Homo sapiens: one gene and its partners. The protein of the gene in region 2 purifies or fractionates together with the protein of the main gene of each other region. This does not show direct contact. Each region holds a gene or a part of one and is shown on either strand. Other genes may lie near its edges.

Evidence for each region.
Region 1: the proteins of WDR1 (region 2) and GOT1 fractionate together in Homo sapiens (co-fractionation; one large-scale study listed by BioGRID). This does not show direct contact.
Region 3: the proteins of WDR1 (region 2) and LACTB2 fractionate together in Homo sapiens (co-fractionation; one large-scale study listed by BioGRID). This does not show direct contact.

What each region holds. Positions count from the first base shown.
Region 1 is NC_000010.11:99,406,576-99,410,226, reverse strand, and holds part of GOT1 (aspartate aminotransferase, cytoplasmic), read left to right. Parts: intron 1-3,377; coding exon 3,378-3,501; intron 3,502-3,651. UniProt on the Homo sapiens protein: Biosynthesis of L-glutamate from L-aspartate or L-cysteine. Important regulator of levels of glutamate, the major excitatory neurotransmitter of the vertebrate central nervous system. Acts as a scavenger of glutamate in brain neuroprotection.
Region 2 is NC_000004.12:10,082,158-10,085,808, reverse strand, and holds part of WDR1 (WD repeat-containing protein 1), read left to right. Parts: intron 1-1,278; coding exon 1,279-1,366; intron 1,367-2,630; coding exon 2,631-2,787; intron 2,788-3,651.
Region 3 is NC_000008.11:70,667,074-70,670,824, forward strand, and holds the start of LACTB2 (endoribonuclease LACTB2), read right to left. Parts: upstream 2,113-3,751; 5' UTR 2,048-2,112; coding exon 1,926-2,047; intron 1-1,925.

The DNA of each region.
Region 1 (3,651 bases), on a different chromosome or scaffold from region 2:
TAAATGCACATTTGTGTTATATCATCTTGGTAGCAATTTGCATAAAGAATTCAGGTAAACCACAATGTGGGGGCAAAACTTTTAAAGTAATAGCAAGGGATGAGTGCTCAGTAAGGATCACTGTAAATAACAGAGTAGTTAGCACACCAAATCTGACACACACTGAGCATTTTCACCCCAGTGCACTGCCTTTGCCCCTCTCTGTAATGTACAGCTATGTTTAGTTCTGCATCCCCTTGAATGTCAACTTTGCTTATGTTTCACATTTCAGATAGTATTCTTTCACAGATGCTCACACCTATAAATACAAACAGAACATTGGTGCATAATAGTGCCGATAATTGGTAACATTACCTTGTTGTTGGCTTAAATGGGATTTCTACTAAACGATTCACTGTTTTTAAGCTGACTTATGGGTTAAATGAATTTTTTTCAGTCATTTTCAGGAAGTATCCACTGTTTCCTGTTTTACTAAGCATTTATCTCAGGAATAGCCAAGCTTTTCTTACCTGTTGTGATGATCATTTGGGTTTTCTCTATCTAGCAGCATGATTGGTTTTATATCTCTTATAATCCATTCATGGGATGACTCTCAATCAAGGGGGTAATTTTAATGTACTGCTGGATTAATATTGTTCATTAATGTTTACTTGGGAAGTTAGTATCAAGGTACGATCTAGGTCTCTCATTCTACTTTTTTCCCTTTTGTTGTCTTTTAGCAGCAATGTTATGTTAGGTTCTTGAAAAGATTTAGGAAGCTTTTCTTCTCTAAGAAGAGTTTTAAAACTTTTTTATTGGCCAGGCGTGGTGGCTCATGCCTGTAATCCCAGTACTTTGGGAAGCCGAGGCAGGCGGATCACGAGGTCAGGAGTTGGAGAGCAGCCTGACCAACATGGTGAAACCCCATCTGTACTAAAAACACAAAAATTAGCTGGGTGTGGTGGTACGTGCCTGTAGTCCCAGCTCCTCAGGAGTCTGAGGCAGGAGAATCACTTGAACCCAGGAGGCGGAGGTTGCAGTAAGCCAAGATCGTGCCACTGCACTCCAGCCTGGGCAACAGAGCGAGACTCTGTCTCAAAAAACAAACAAAAAAAAAACACAAAAAAAACCTTTTTATTATGGAACATTTCAAATCTATATGAAAGTAGAGAAAACAGTATAAAGAATGAATCCCTGTGTATCCATCACCTAGCTTCAACAATTATCTGTATAGGGTCAATCCTGTGTATTTCCATCTACCCACTCCCTGCCTCCCTGCCTCCCTGCCCTCCACGAAAGCTGGATTATTATTTAATAGTAAATCCCAGACATCTAAATAGGTGTTTGAAATTGTAAAATTTTATGACTAATACATGAATACATTCATCTTATTTTTAAAAAAACGACTTATAGATTAGGCCAAAGTCCCTTTCAACCACTATTCCTACATCCTTGGACCCCTCCCCAGAGGTTGCCACTGTTAGAAGATTGGCGTGTGTCCCTCCTTGTATTTACTTATTTATTTATTTGAGACAGAGTCTCACTGTGTTGCCCAGGCTGGAGGGCAGTGGTGCGATCTTGGCTCACTGCAACCTCTGCCTCCCAGGTTCAAATGATTCTCACGTCTCAGCCTCCCGAGTAGCTGAGATTACAGGTGTGTGCCACCATGCCCAGCTAATTTTCTTGTATTTTTAGGAGAGACAGGGTTTCACCATGTTGGCCAGGCTGGTCTCAAACTCCTGGGCTCAAGTGATCCACCCACCTTGGCCTCCCAAAGTGCTGGGATTACAGGCGTGAGCCACTGCGCCCGGCTAGATAGACTTTTTCATGTGATCTTTTTCTTCCTTTCTCTTCAATCCTTTAGACAAATTGGGCAACATGGGGTTTATGACATTTTTCTGCTGAGAGACTTATGCTGAAACCTAATTAGAATTTTGAAGAGGCAAAATCAAAGATCTATAGGCAGAGAACTACATCATTAGAATGTAGTGACTCCATCTAGAATGGAAAACCTGGATTTGTGCTGAGCTGTGCCACTCACAACTGTGTATCCTTTGGGAAAAACATGTCTCTGAATCAGTTCCTCATGTTTCAGGGGATATAGACTTGACTTTAGAGGGCATGTGGGCATTGAGTATACATGAAAGCATTTTGTAAATGATAAAATATAGGAATAGAAAACCAAACACCTCATGTTCTCACTTAAAAGTGGGAGCTGAACAATGAGAACACGTGGACACAGGGAGGGGAACATCACACACGGGGGCCTATCGGTGGGTGGGAGGCAAGGGGAGGGAGAGCATTAGGACAAATACCTAATGCATGCGGGGCTTAAAACCTAGATGACGGGTTGATGGGTGCCACAAACCACCATGGCACATGTATAGCTATGTAACAAACCTGCACATTCTGCACACATATCCCAGAACTTAAAGTAAAATAAATAAATAAATAAATAAATAAAATATGGCTTTTATTATTGCCTATGTTAGGTCACTTTAGGATGAGAGGAAGCCAGCCAGGCGCAGTGGCTCACACCTGTAATCCCAGCAGTTTGAGAGGCCAAGGCAGGCAGATCACAAGGTCAGGAGTTCGAGACCAACCTGGCCAAAATGGTGAAACCCCGTCTCTACTAAATATACAAAAAATTAGCCGGGCATGGTGGCAGGCGCCTGTAGTCCCAGCTACTCGGGAGGCTGAGGCAGGAGAATCACTTGAACCTGGGAGGCGGAAGTTGCAGTTAGCTGAGACCATGCCACTGCACTCCAACCTAGGTGACAGAATGAGACTGTCTCAAAAAGAAAAAAAAAAAAAATGAGAGGAAGCCAAGGAGAAGAAAGTAGTACTCATGCATCACCTCTGTTTTGTTAGAACATACTTCTAAGGATTAATAAGCCTGAATTCTAGAGATGAGGAGTAGCACAGATTGATGTCAATGACAAGTTAGGAACACTGTTTTAGAGGCTTATGCTAGAGGGTAAGTTTGATCTTAGGATGGGTGCTGAAGAGATGGGTTTGCCTTCCAAGGCATGTGCGTGCATGCACACACACACACACACACACACTAATGTGGCCTCGGTGTGTCCTCTACCTCTGTGTTCAGAAGGGAAGCTTCTTCTAGTGTCAGACCTCCTGGGTTGAAGACTGGCACTCCTGCTCAGTAGCTGGTAACTTTGAGCAAGGTTCTTCACCTCTCTCAGCCTCAGTTTCCTCAGTTGTAAACATGGGCAAATCATAGTACCTTTTTCATGTAGTAGTTGTAAGGTTTTGATGAGATAATACAATTAAAAGCCTTAGCACAGAGCAGGCATAGAGTAAGTGCTCATTATTACCTTATTTTTGTAAATATTATCTGACCTCACCATTATCAGCCTGTGACCCTGTTTCTTCTCTTTCAGGTAGGAGGTGTGCAATCTTTGGGGGGAACAGGTGCACTTCGAATTGGAGCTGATTTCTTAGCGCGTTGGTACAATGGAACAAACAACAAGAACACACCTGTCTATGTGTCCTCACCAACCTGGGGTGAGTCTTTCAGCTGAAGTGAGAGGAAAAACAGAAACCAGAGAGAATTATCCTCATGACTCTCCCTGGTTACACAGAAAATGTAATCCAGCCCTAGAACAACTGACTGTTGGGAATGGCTTGAACAGTGGGTTATGGCAGTGCATGAGA
Region 2 (3,651 bases):
GGAGCAGCAGGTATCAGCCCAGGCTGCGTGTTAGAACCACCTGGGAGCTCTAAAAAGCGCTGGCTGCTGACGCCCCCAGAGGCACTAAGTTTACAGGGAAGTCTCAGGGCAGCAGGAGCTTGCAGGCCTCCAGAAGGAACACCCGTGGGCATCTGGGCATGGCTAGGAGTGTTTCTGGTAAGTTCAAGGCATTGAGCCTGCACACAAGTCTCTTGGCCTCTTGCCGAGTGCACGTTCTGATTTGGCAGGAAGGTGGGCCTGAGCCCTGCTGGTGGGGGCTGTGCTGGTCTGAGGTCCGCGCTGTAAGGGACTGGTGGGATGCCACATTGGAAGGAGGCCGCCCAGCTCAGTGTCTCTTACTGGGGCATGTGATGATTTTTCCCCACGTCTCTGTGGAAAAGATGAAAGTAGCTGCATTCGTTGCCCATTCTCCAGTCCCACTGGTAACTGTGTACCTGTCTCCAAGGAGACCTGCATCCAAAGATCTATGCCATATTGTGGCAACATGTGGCATACCACAGAGATCAAGAATTCCTGCGGAAAAGCCCTGAGCTCAGAGGAGAGGGGCCAGCCAGGAGCTGGCCTCCCTTTGCAGGAGAAAGGCATGAGGAGCCTGCACCCTAGCTGTTATTTTTGTCTCAGGCTCAGATATGGAGGGGGCTAAACGCCGCCCTCTGGAAGCAGCTGTCTGGTTGTGGACCAGCCTTGTGTGCCCTCCACTGCAGCAGTCAGGGAGGTTAGGGTAGGAGCGTCAGCGTTCACGGACAGCCTTGGGCTTTTACAGTGATCAGAGAGACCCCTGCCCTCAGCAGGGCCAGCACTCCTGGGCAGGGAGAGAGAAGAAACCTCACAAACCAGGGCCTGAAGCGAATGTGGCCAGCGAAGTCCTCCTGGACCGACCCCCTTGTGGCTCCCCGCGACGGGTGCTGGTCGGCGGGGTGCAGGCCACGTGTCTGCACACGTTAGGTGCTCAGGTGCTGACGTGCTGGGCCTTGGTTAGACGCAGGTCTGGGCCCAGGTCTGGGTTAGGTACCTTGGAGGGAGGGGAATGAAGGGCAGGGTCTGTAGGTGACTGGGTAGCTTTGGAAAGGTTTCTTAGGGCTCGTGGGCCGTGCATTCGGGCAGCTGGGGCTACTGGGGCCTCAGAGCACCTGCACTGCCATGGATTGAGGGGCGTCTGCCCCCTCCATTACCCAGAAGCTTCGTTGGTGGAAAGCGGGTGGCAGAGGGCAGGGCAGTGTGTCATCAGCTTACCCGCCCAGTGTGTCTCCTTCACAGGGTCACAGTAAATCGATCCAGTGTCTGACGGTGCATAAAAACGGCGGCAAGTCCTACATTTACTCTGGGAGCCACGACGGACACATTAATATCCTTTGACTCAAAGAGCTGGCTCCGGAGCCGCTGGCTCTAGGGGGGAATTTCCTGTTCCCATGATGCCAGAGGCCAGGCCAGCCAGGTGGCTCCAGCTGCAGCCACAGCCACACGCTCTTCTGACCCGTGTGGCTTCTAGGGGTGGCCTGTCTGTACATGGGGACAGGCAACTGTCCCCTGGAGTTGTCCTTGGCAACTCCAGGGCTTATGCTGAGGAAAAGCCATGGGCGGCTCCGACCTGATCAGTCCCTTCTTGTCGTGCAACCCTGAGAGTGTGGCTTAACGGCCCTGAGCTTGGGCTGCCACTACCTCTGCCAATGGCACCTGGCGCCAGCCTTGGCCCTACTCCACATGGTGGGTTTCTTGATTCCTAGAATTCACAAGCACCTGGACACCCTTACGTTGGGTCCCCTTGTTTTAAAAATAGGAAAACCAGAGCCCAGAGAGCTGATGTGCCCGCCCCAGAGTCATGCAGCCTGTGGTCCACAGAGCCAGGGCTGGAGCTCCTGCGAGGTGCCTTGTGGCCCTTCGGTGATGTTCCCTGGAGGTGTTTGTGTCCCCCTTATAAGTCCTTGTCTGGGTTTCTTTAAATGAGTCCTGGTTTCTCCCTGATGATGGGGGCTTCTGTTGTGTTTTTCCTGCATGGCCTGGGGCTGGTGACACCCTGCTCACGGGTGTGTCTTGAACCTTGGAGCCACCATCTGCAGAGTGCCTGGGCAGGGATGCCCACACACGTTGCTGATGATGGCACCTGCTGTGCGTTGTTCTGCTGCCCTCCCTGAGCACCGTGCTGTGTTGGAGACTGCCTTTTGTGTGGACAGCTCTGGTCCGCATGTGCTGTACCTCCCAAAGGGACTGTCCGGGACCCAAGGAGGTCCCCCCAGGCTGGGAGAGGAGGGCAGACATGCCACCCTCTGCCCCCAAAACATAAAGAAATGTGGGGTTAGAGGGTTGCGCCTACCCGATAACTAGTAGCAGAGGAGACGCCGGAGCCTCCCCAGCTTGCTGGTCCCCAGTAGGCCTTCAGCACGGCTCCCTTTCTGCCTCATCCCAATCCCTGTGTGGTGCACCCACACTTCAGATACCCCTTCCTAAGAACGTGTCAACAGTGGACACTGCAGGCTTCCCAGGGGGAATGGTTATGTCCGTTTGCGGCGAGATTCTCATTCTTGATGTAAATGGAGAATCTTAGGACTGAAGCCACACCTGAGAACACCCAGCAGTCCTGGGAGCCGGGCTTTTCCTTAACCCCACCCTACATTACTGGGATTCAGAGACGGGGGAGAACGACTCCTTCGCTGGGAAAGGCCACACGAACCAGGTGTCCAGGATGACCGTGGATGAGTCGGGGCAGCTCATCAGCTGCAGCATGGACGACACCGTGCGGTACACCAGCCTCATGCTGCGGGACTACAGGTGAGAGCACTCGGGTCTGCGGGGGTTCCGGATGAGCCTCAGCTCCCCTCGGAGGGCTTGTGCCCTCCAGCAGTTACTGTTCTGGAGGACGCCTCACTTGCTCCTTTCATCTCTCCCACCCCGTCCCCAGCATTGTTCTCCTGTTGTTGGGCCCTGAGCCCAGCACTGTGTTACAGATCCAGGTGGTCTGGGTAATGCTCTTGCCCACAGACAACGACCAGGTGTGGACTCTGCCCTGGAAGCAGGGGCAGCAGATCACAGCCCTGTTCTCCAGGAACCTGCTGCGGTCTCTCCCTGTGTCCCTTTCCTCATCAGTAAAGGCGGGTACAGTGGAGCCTGCCTCAGGCTGTTGTGGATTAGGTGAGCCTGGCACAGGGCAGGTGCTGAGTACAAGACAGCATTCCCCTTCTGCTCAAGGGTGAGATGGGCACACAGTGATCTGGTTAAAAGACAATGTCTTGTTTGTTTTTGGTCTTGGGCCTTTGATTGGCAGTCAGTGGAGCTAGGAGAGTAGCAGTTTGCAAGTGATCTGAAGTCCTAAATGCAGTTGGAGGGACTTGAAAGAGAAATGTTCCAGGACCTGACGAGGCCACTGCACATCCAGTGTCCCCATGCCCAGGTCTGACCCCTCCTCTGGCCCTACATTTCTTGTGTAGACCCCTTTGTCACCCGGTAGTCCTGCCTAAGTCGTGTTGCCTGGGAGATGGGGACTCCTGGGGCCTGTTGATGGGAGCCTGGCACAGGGTGCAGCACGCAACTCCTAGCAGGTGTGCCGTCCTTGTAGGTAACACAGGCCCTGCCTGCCTGGCAGACTGGGCATCTGTAGGTAAATTGGGCCTCCCGATGAGTGGCAGAAGCGGCCCC
Region 3 (3,751 bases), on a different chromosome or scaffold from region 2:
AGATGAGGATTATATACTGAATAACTAAAATAATTAAAGATTTGATAAAGAAGATGACTCTATCAAGGTGAAAGAGAAAGAGCAGCTCAAGAGGTAATAGGAAACCTGAAGAATGTGGTGTTGGCAAATTAAGGAGGGAGTCGTCAATGGTGTCAAAGCACTGAAGTTCAAGGAAGATGAGAACAGAAAAATACCATTGGGGTTAGTGATACAAAAGCCGCTTGTGATCTTAGAACTGTTTTGTGAAGCGGAACAGGTGGATACCAATCTCAGAACATCTGACAAGGGGCCAATTAATATTAACTTCTAGCCACCTTTTACTTTACACCTTTTACTTTATACAGTAGCATTATCTACACTTATTTCTAGCTCAACTATACGGACTCTCTAGTTCAACTATATGGAGAAATAATTTACATAGTGCAAGTAATTCCACTGGCCATTCCACTCCATTAATTTATGTGAGCAACAGTGTTAAGTAATTTAAGACGAGAGACTATAAATCTGCTTTTCCCTCAGTTAGTCTTTAAGTCTCTCTTAGCACTAGCACTTTGCTATGTTGAGTGTGATTATAGTGTTTAAAGATACAGTATGTATTTTTCATACAATATAGCCCCTCAACACAAGCCAATTTCTTCACCTGGTTTTCAAACAGAATCAGCCATCTGTTTCAACGCTGGAAAAAAGGCAGGTTGTGCTGAACTTACTGAGACAATACACTGATCTCCAACATGGTGTTCTTCTAAGAGACTTTCCAGGGTAATTCTGATAATATGCATCTTTTGTCTGAGGTATTGACTAGTTCAAGATGACACACTGTAGAGAGACCGCCTATGGATTTACTTGGTTGAGGGACTTCCAGCCAAGACAGACTGTACCCTAGAGATCTGGCATTTTTCCTGCTTAATTCTCTATCCTCCTAGATTCTGGTGGCAGCCTAAACCTTTGGTAACTACCTGACCCTGCCTTATTTACTCTGAACTTAATCTTTTACCTGCCCACTTTGCAGGTCTGCTGCTTCTAAAATTCTTATTTACTGGAAAAACGCCAAACAGTAGACACTTCCAAGGAAAACTCAATTAACTGTACTTACTAAATCGTTTTTAGTAATCAATTATATTTTAAAAATAATTTATGTCTTGACTGCACAATTAAATTCTATGCTCAAGAGAAACTACATTATCTGGGTTCATCCAGTAAAGACTACAAAAGTTGCTAAATGCCTAAGACTTACTATGCAGTAAACCAAATCTCCCATTCCTGCATAATTCCACTAAAACAGAATGCAGCTAAACAAGAGCAAAAGTATCTTCTTAGAAATACAGGTGTGTTACTGTGTCTGCAAATTAAACTCAAACAAGGTCACACACAATTGTAACAAAAAACTTCCCCAAATTACTTATGTCAGCTCCTCTTATGAGCCCACAGGCTGCAGAGAACCAATTTGGAAGCCAGGAGAATCCTGCCCTCTGCTGCTGAGTTGAGGAAATCGCCTCAACATAATTAATCGCTTTTGAGAAGGGAAGTTACACTCTGGGCAAAACACCAGTGAAAGTCAAGTGAGCAAAGTAAACGCTTTCTTGGACTCTTGACATCCGAATTTTCTCAACAGTTTAAACACGCACACCCTGGCATTCAAACATCAAGAACAGTAAATCGGGTTTCAAAACAGAAGTTTTTTTTTTTTTTTTTTTTTTTTTTTCCATTTCTCCCTAAATTAGAGAGCTATCACCTGGGGTGGTCGTATTTTAGCTAGCTTCGAGATCCGAGTGTCTGCGTGCAGTCCCGACGGGGCTGCTAGGCGCGGGGCTGCCCAGCTAGGGACAGGACGCGGCGCTCTCCACTGCCCGCGCAGCCGCGATCAGTCAAAGCCCGGGCTCCGGGGCCGGCTGCGAACGTTGGGGAGGTTGGAGAGGGACGTTTACCTGGGGCCGGTCCCCACTAGGTAGGTGTTGGTGCCTTGGAGGGTCATGGGACCCGGGTTACAGCCCAACACACGCACGACTCGATTGGACAGCCGCTCGACGCGCTGCAGTACAGCAGCCATTCCCGCCTCAGCCGCCCGCCGGCGTGTCGCCTATCTGGATACTCCAGCGCGGAAGAAGCCAACAGGCCGGGGATAGCGAGTAGCGTCCACGTGATGCCTCGCAACCCGGGAGGGAGGGGATTGGCCAGCGGCTGGTCCAGGTGTCATGTGACACCGCGGACGAGCCGGGGCGGGGATCCGGCAGCTAGGCCGGGGGGTGGGGGGGGCGGTGCGGAACTAGAGGTCACGTGACGCCGCGCGGGCTGCGCGGGCAGTGGTGGGAAGGCTGGCGCGAGGCGTGAGGTGGCGTGAGGCGAAGCTGGAATCTGCCTCTGTCACGGGGGCTGGTGCCTCACGGGTTTGTGTCCTAGACAGGCGAGTGGATCCAAGTGGGCGAGAGACATTTTAATCTGGAAGAGTCTTGTGATTTGGGAGACAGGTTTGGTAACCGTTCGTTATTCAGTAATAAATGTCAGGAAGGATTGCCAGATTTTTAGGCAGTGGCTCTGTGTGTGTGTGTGTGTGTGTGTGTGTGTGTGTAGTAGTAGTAGTAGTAGCCTGTTCATTTTTTTTTTTTTTTTTTTTGAGACGAAGTCTCGGTCTGTCGCCCAGGCTGGAGTGCAGTGGCGCGATCTCGGCTCACTGCAAGCCCCGCCTCCCGGGTTCACGCCATCCTCCTGCCTCGGCCTCCCGAGTAGCTGGGACTATAGGCGTCCGCCACCACGCCCGGCTAATTTTTTGTATTTTTAGTAGAGACCGGGTTTCATTGTGTTAGCCAGGAAGGTCTTGATCTCCTGACCTCGTGATCCGCCCGCCTCGGCCTCCCAAAGTGCTGGGATTACAGGCGTGAGCTACCACGCCGGGCCAGCCTGTTCATCTTTTATAATAAATAGTGGTAAGACATATTTACTTAGTACTTCCTACTATGCCTAAGTGCTTTCAACAAACATCCGACTTAACGCCCTTAATCCTCAGAACATTATTAAGAGGTGGACACTATTTTTGTTACAAATGAAAAACGGGGATTGGGCAGCTGCCCAGATGACAGAGTCTGCGTGTGCGGCCTTGCTCCTACCTGCCTCGCACTAACACTTGTCCCCCTCAGTGAGATTCAAGGAGCATGCCTCTGCCTGCCAGTGTTACCTGCCTGCCCAGAGAGCTAGGCTGGTCTTGTGGAGCCGTTTTGTGCCCAAGATGGAAGGGACTCATTTTCTCTGTAACAAGTCGGTTTCTTATCAGCCAAGTATTAACTATCCAGTGTTAACTACAGCTTCCCATAAAAAAAGTTGAGTTATAAATTACTTAAAAGAAAATACACAGATCCTGTAGACAGTTCCATCGAGTTATGACAATTGTATGTAATCACTGCCCCAAAGAGATGTAGAACATATCCACTGTAGCAGCCCACTCTTTTTTTTTTTAAAAAAAGGTGAGAAATTGACACATACAGTGCTTGGTGGCTTTTTTTTTTCCAGATATTTCTGATGAAGAAAACGATCTGCTCTTACCTATTTTATGAATCAGCAGCATAGTGTATCAGAGTGGCTAATGACATCTGCTTTGTGTGTGAGAAATGTCTTTGCCTTGTTTCACACAGTTGTACTTTTAATGGAAAAATATTCAAAAAATCATCGCTGAAATAATCATATAAGTTATCCCCTGTTGCAATGGGAAGTTAAACAGTATACCCTTCAAAAAATACTTAAAGTAACCAAATCTCCTACA